Regions from separate parts of the Homo sapiens genome. Here region 1 is linked to region 2. The links come from fine-mapping of genetic effects on gene expression. A gene starts in region 2. The other region holds a variant in brackets. All regions are shown on one strand. Distances are from middle to middle.

Region 1 (2,917 bases), 110 kb before region 2:
TTCAGTACCGTCCAAAGGGATCCTCAAGAAGAGCGTGTTAGAGGTGTCCAGCATGACACGACGCAGAAGGGTCAACACGTCCACATAGCCCGATTCATTGGTCACCTCCTCCAACCTGTCCAGATGTGTTTTGAGGGATTCAGCACAGACTGTGACCATACGAACAAGGCCGGGGCCTGACAGAGCTGCAGAGTACACATCAGAGAATCAGCCATCACGAACTCCAGGGCACACACACAATCATGCCATTTTGGCTTTTTATGTTGGAGCTTAATTGTCCACAATTTTTAATTTAATAATTGGGTGGAAGTTTTCATAATATTTTCGTATGCTTTTCTGTGGTCTCCTAATTTTACATAAGCATGTACTATCCTATGGTTAAGAATGAATGAACGGAAGGAGATAGGGACAAATATTATTTTAAACAAACTATTAAAAATTAAACTTTTTTTCATGCTCTAGCCAGCCATTTATGAGATTGCAAATGAAACATTTAGTACTTGTGGTCATAAATCACAAATCAGTGATTTTTTCATATTTATTGCATACATTTCCCTCCAAAGATGATTTGGATTTGCCTAGGGTCATATTTATTTTGCGTTTCAACAGGTGGCAGGATATTATTGGAAAACTGGTCAAATTGGATCCTATTTGATCTAAGGTGCTTCCTGTTTAAGTGTAAAAGGCTAGTTGTAAAAATCCCCCAAAGTGCCCTTCTCTTAATTTTGATTTCTCTTCAAACTACTTCCAGGTTTATTTTACTCAGCCAATGGCATGACAGCTAAGCAATTCCTTGCTTGCTTACCAGTCTTCCCTCACTGAACTGAGAGCTCTTTAAGGACAGTGACAGCCACTCATTAGCATTGCACTTCAAGCTGATGGTCCATGGGGGCCTTCATACATATTTTTTCAATAGAGGAATGAATGAATGAATGAATGAATGAAAATAGAGTAAACTGGCTTTGATCTTACTCTTGCCCTGTTCATATCTGAGCAGTGGCTGGTGGGTCCTGATGGTAGGTGGCCTACACAGGAGGGTTTAACCCTTAAAGTGCCCCTTTCTCTCTTTGTGTTACGTTTCTTTAAGCATCTTTTAGGAGTAATCTCTTTTTAAGTCTTTTATTATTCAGGTTTGCTGTTAACATCAGAGTCTTTGAAATGAGATGAAAAATATTGGGAAACTTTGTAGACGTAACTCCAGAAGAAGACTATCCTCTCTCTCTCTCTCTTGCTCTCTCTCTCTCTCTCTCTCTCACACACACACACACACACACACACACACACACACACACACACTGGGTTAAGCTGCGGAATCCCCATGCCTAAAGGTATACTTTGCAAATAAGAAAGGAGGCCTGAGGACTGGTCCTAGACTTTTGAGATTTCCATACATCTTGGAAGGAAGGTTGAGGAAGGAGCAGGCTTTCTGACCATAGGAAGGACTTGGCAGATATGAAAGGCCAGGATGTTGTTCTCTGGGTGACTGCCACTTCAGCAAGCAGGACAAATGACTCAACCCTTTGTGTGGAAGGGTTGGCTTAGAATGTCACTTGTGGTTTTCTCCCAGGCCGATGCATGATTTGCCTCTGTGTTTAAAGAGCTTGAAGCCACATGCCAAATTTATGGGCAAAAATGTAATAACATGGCTTATAGGCAGTGGTATGATGTAGATATGATTTAATTTTTAAAATATGCTAAAAAGTATTGACTCTATCTAGTGAAAAGAAAATTGGGCAACAATCAGCAAATACCATCAATATGGACAC[A/G]TTTCTCGGCAGTTTTGGGAAACACATGCTATTTCTTCACCCCTCGCCACCACCCTTCCCTACCTCCCAAGATGGGTCATTGCCTAAGTTGCACTTAACTATTTCTCTACAGACTCACCCAGTAAGTCAATACTTTCATTAATGTTACTGATTTAGATACTAAAACTTGTGCCAAACTTTCCACTATATCAGGAAAACCAACAGGGAGTCTAACTCCAAAAGGAGATTCACTGAAAAATGCTTAGGACCCTCATTGATTATAGAAATGTCAGACACCACAGTGAACTTTCCAATAAGCAATTATCCCCCTATTTCCTGAGATTATGAATTTGGGTCCAGTTATGTAGCACTTTTTGTAGAAACCCTGATCTTGCCTATAGAAGGCTGTCTAAAAAAAAATCACAAAGATGTTTTGCTTAATTTCCAAGTACTATAGGCTCTACTACTGTAGGGTCTACCCTTTTGACATTTCTTGAAACCACAGCCTCCCCTCCACCCTTCCTGCATCACTGCAGTAGCTCCTAAATGTTCTCACTGCTCACAATCCTGCTTCCTTCCAATTAGTCATTCTCTCTGCTACCAGAGGGATTTTTATAAAATACAAATATGTTTATGTTATTCTGCTTAAAATCTTTAGTGATTCTCCATAGTTTTTGAGATAAGCTCAATTCCTTGCCTTAACTGAGAGGTCTTTGGTGATCTGGCCCTGCCCTCCCCTTGGCCACGTCCCTGAATGTATCTGCACCAGGCACAAGGACTTACCGACAGGGCCCTGGATGCATCATGTCTATCTATTTGTCTGTGCCTTTGGTTATCCTATTCTTTACTCCTAGAATATTTGTCTTTTGTTTTCTTAATTAGCTTCTACCTTCATTTAAAACTCATTATAAGCATCCATTCCTCTGAAAAGTCTCCCCTGCCCCTCAATGTGCTTTAGATGGCCTGTTCATCTGTACTTGGCATCACTCTGGGCACACCGCCAGCATTACCATCACCTAGGGTAGTATTTGGTGATGTGCTGGGCTGCCCCTTCCTAATTCAAACCTCTCTCCCCCATTATAAGTTCCTGGAGGGCAGGAACCACATCTTGTTTGTCATTGTATCTTGGTACCTAGTTCAAAGATGAGAACGGTGGGGTGTTAAACAAATGG
Region 2 (2,917 bases):
AAGAAATAGGATGTGGAAGAACTAAGATGTCGATTAACAGCACAAGGCACAGAAGAACTAAAGTGTCAACTAACAGCACAAGGCACACACAGTGTAAGTCTCAGCCAGTTCATATGGCCCATATCCAACAATACCAACCCGTGTTGAACATTTATTATACAAGTGCTTTACAAGTATTTTCTTATTAAAGCTTCACAACCCTATGAAATAGATACAATTACAGTCTCTTTAAAGAACTTGAGTAGCATATCTAAAGTCATGCAGTTAAAAAACAGTTTCAAGGTCAGGTCTGATTCCAAAGCCCAGGTGCATAACCACAGAGCCCCTGCAGCTTGTAGAGCTCACAGTGCTTGGGACTGGCCTAGGAAGTCAAGGCTAGATGAGGAAGGGTACTCGGAGTTAGGCCTTAAAGTGGGCAACACTGAAATAGGCCAGTGATGGAGATAGGTCACTGTGTGGCACTGCGGTGGAAAGAGGGTTGGAGAGAGAAGATAGAGGAGAAGAGGAAAGAGGGCAGAGCATGGCAGCTGCTTGGGCACAGCCACTTTAGGGTGAGAGATGAGTGAAGATGTCTACCTTGTAGGCCATATCAACATGTCCCCCTTCTTCTGTGAAAAATGCCATCATCCCACACAGGAAGAGTTGGAGAGGGATCTGACAGTGGAGTCTGGTAGGAAAGGAGTCTGGCTTTTCATTTGCGCTTCCTTCTGCCCCTCTTGCCCCAGAGCAATATCCCAGGCTTTCCACCAACCCAGCCCACGGGGTGGCCATGCTACAAGCCTTTTGAGTCCTGCATCCCAAGAGGGGCAGCTTCTTGGCCTGAAGTTGTCTAATAGAGCCTGCCTGGCTCCAAGCAGGCCTCATCTCTGCTCTGTCTACTGGATCTGGGCTCTGAACTGGGGTGGGAGGTGGGGAAATGGGGAGGCTGGTTCAGGCTACCACTTCCTCTCCTCACCATTGGATAGCCAGCCTTTCAAGGAAAGTAGGGGGCCAGTTCTGTGGCATAGAACAGTATAGTTCTTAGGCCCTCCTATTTCAGAAAAACACTCAAGCAGTGTTTTCCCTCTGCTCTCACACCACGACAACAGTCATCAACACAGAAGACTTCTGCGACCAAATGTAGGGGATTTTCCCCCACACACCAAGCAGCGGGCACCAGCTGGGTGTCCTCCAACTCAGTTCCAACACTATCTACCTGGAAAGAGTGTCTGATCCCACAGGTTGAGGGCTCAGTCAGATTAAGAGATACATACGCGACGTCTGGAAGATCCCGAGCACAGGACCTTCCGTCCTGATAGGATAAGTTCTTCTTCACCTTCCTGTTTGCCTCCACGTGTTCAGCCCTCCAGAAACTCCCTGAACCCTGTCCTTTGGGCCTTTTATGGAGATTTCATTTGTTGTCCATGACTGAAGCATGTGATTGAACAAAATGTGATTGGACAAAAAGGGTATGATCTAATCTCAGCAAGGTCTGTCTGTCCAGATTCTTCTTCCTCTCTTTGTGCAGCATTCCTTCCTCCAGGGTATGGGGCATGACCTCCTCTGGAATGAGGGTCTTATGACCCACAATCAGATTATAGAGTCCCGCCTTGGGTGGATGAAAGGAGGGCAAAGAAGGCCAGAGAAATATTCTGTTTCCTGAGGCCTAAAGCACCTCTACATTATAGCAAAAGACCTCAGCAAGTGTCATGGGAGTTATGGACAAGAACCATGGACAAAAATCTATATACATGTAATCATAAGATCACACCCCCCACCACACACCACATTGTTCTACATAGAAGTGCCTTCACTATACAGCTTTTCATTTATTCATTCGTTCATTCACTCATTTATTCAACGGGTAATAGTGAATTCCAAATCAGGAACTGTGCTATGTGTTGGGGGTGACATGGCCCCTAGCCTCAGGAGGCTTCTATTCCATGGTTAATGGTGGGTATTGCTGAGAGATGATCAGTCAACAGTAACTGCAATGAATGTTAGGATAAAGAGAAGCCCAGAAGGCTCCACGGTGTTCCAGCTGCTCACAGGGTAATCTGCCTGTCTTTTTTACTTCCGTATCTCCAATGCCCATTATCATACCAGGCACAGGAAGTGCTCAGTTAAGTGTTTACTGAATTAAATGAAGATCTGAATGATGCTGAGTGTCAACCCTCCCTCTCAGTGGCTCCTCCCCATTGGCCCTAAACCTGATACCTGGATGAAAAGAGATAAGGATACATGACAGTTCTTCAAGTAGGTCACAGAACGTTTGAGTTGGGAGGAAATGGACAAAGCTTTTTACATCACTGCCATCCCCTCCCAGTCATCATATCCCCACAGTGGGGGTACTTTATGAAACACTTGGACCTTCATGCTTTCCTAATTTCTTCTTATCCTGTATGCTCTTCTAAGAATACTGAAGTTGGTCAATGTTCCTATTAAAACTCAGGAATCTAAACTTTGACTCAGAATTTCTGATTGAGATGTCACTTCAGTTTCCTTGTGCATTCTCAGAGGCTCTACCCTGGCTCACCCTGGAGAGTAGGGGGCAAGAAGTCTGATACTACTCAGCTTTCTCTCCTGTGCCAAAAAATCCTACCTGCAAGAATTGGTATGTGTATTAGTCCATTCTTGCCTTGCTATAAAGAAAAGCCCGAGACTGGGTAACTTACAAGAAAAGAAGTTTAATTGGCTCATGGTTCCACAGGCTGAACAGGAAGCATGGCAGCACCTGCATCTGGGGAGGCCTCAGGGAGCTTTTACTCATGGAGGAAGGCAAAGCAGGAGCAGGAACATCTCACATGGTGGGAGCAGGAGGAAGAGGGGCCAGGAGAGATGCTACACACTTTTAAACAACCAGATCTCATGATAACTCACTATCATGAGAACAGCACTGAGGGGATGGTGCTAAACCATTCATGAAGGACCACTCCCA

The links.
Region 1: its variant is fine-mapped to the expression of CYP19A1 in fibroblasts (GTEx, PIP above 0.99). The same link has a PIP of 0.9 or more in whole blood.

Annotation. Positions count from the first base shown.
Region 1 is chr15:51,222,341-51,225,257 of GRCh38, forward strand. CYP19A1 (cytochrome P450 family 19 subfamily A member 1) reads right to left here. Exons shown (of 10, transcript NM_000103.4): 5 at 9-185. All of the region lies in intron 1 of MIR4713HG (MIR4713 host gene), which reads left to right. Among named protein-coding and RNA genes, the nearest start is that of MIR4713, 18 kb to the right of the region's middle. The variant A/G (reference allele first, on the strand shown) is at 1,767.
Region 2 is chr15:51,337,242-51,340,158 of GRCh38, forward strand. It overlaps CYP19A1 (cytochrome P450 family 19 subfamily A member 1), which reads right to left and starts at 1,355. Exons shown (of 10, transcript NM_000103.4): 1 at 1,254-1,355. RefSeq lists promoters at 1,280-1,857, 1,280-1,598, an enhancer at 1,519-1,598 and cis regulatory regions at 1,550-1,567, 1,632-1,661.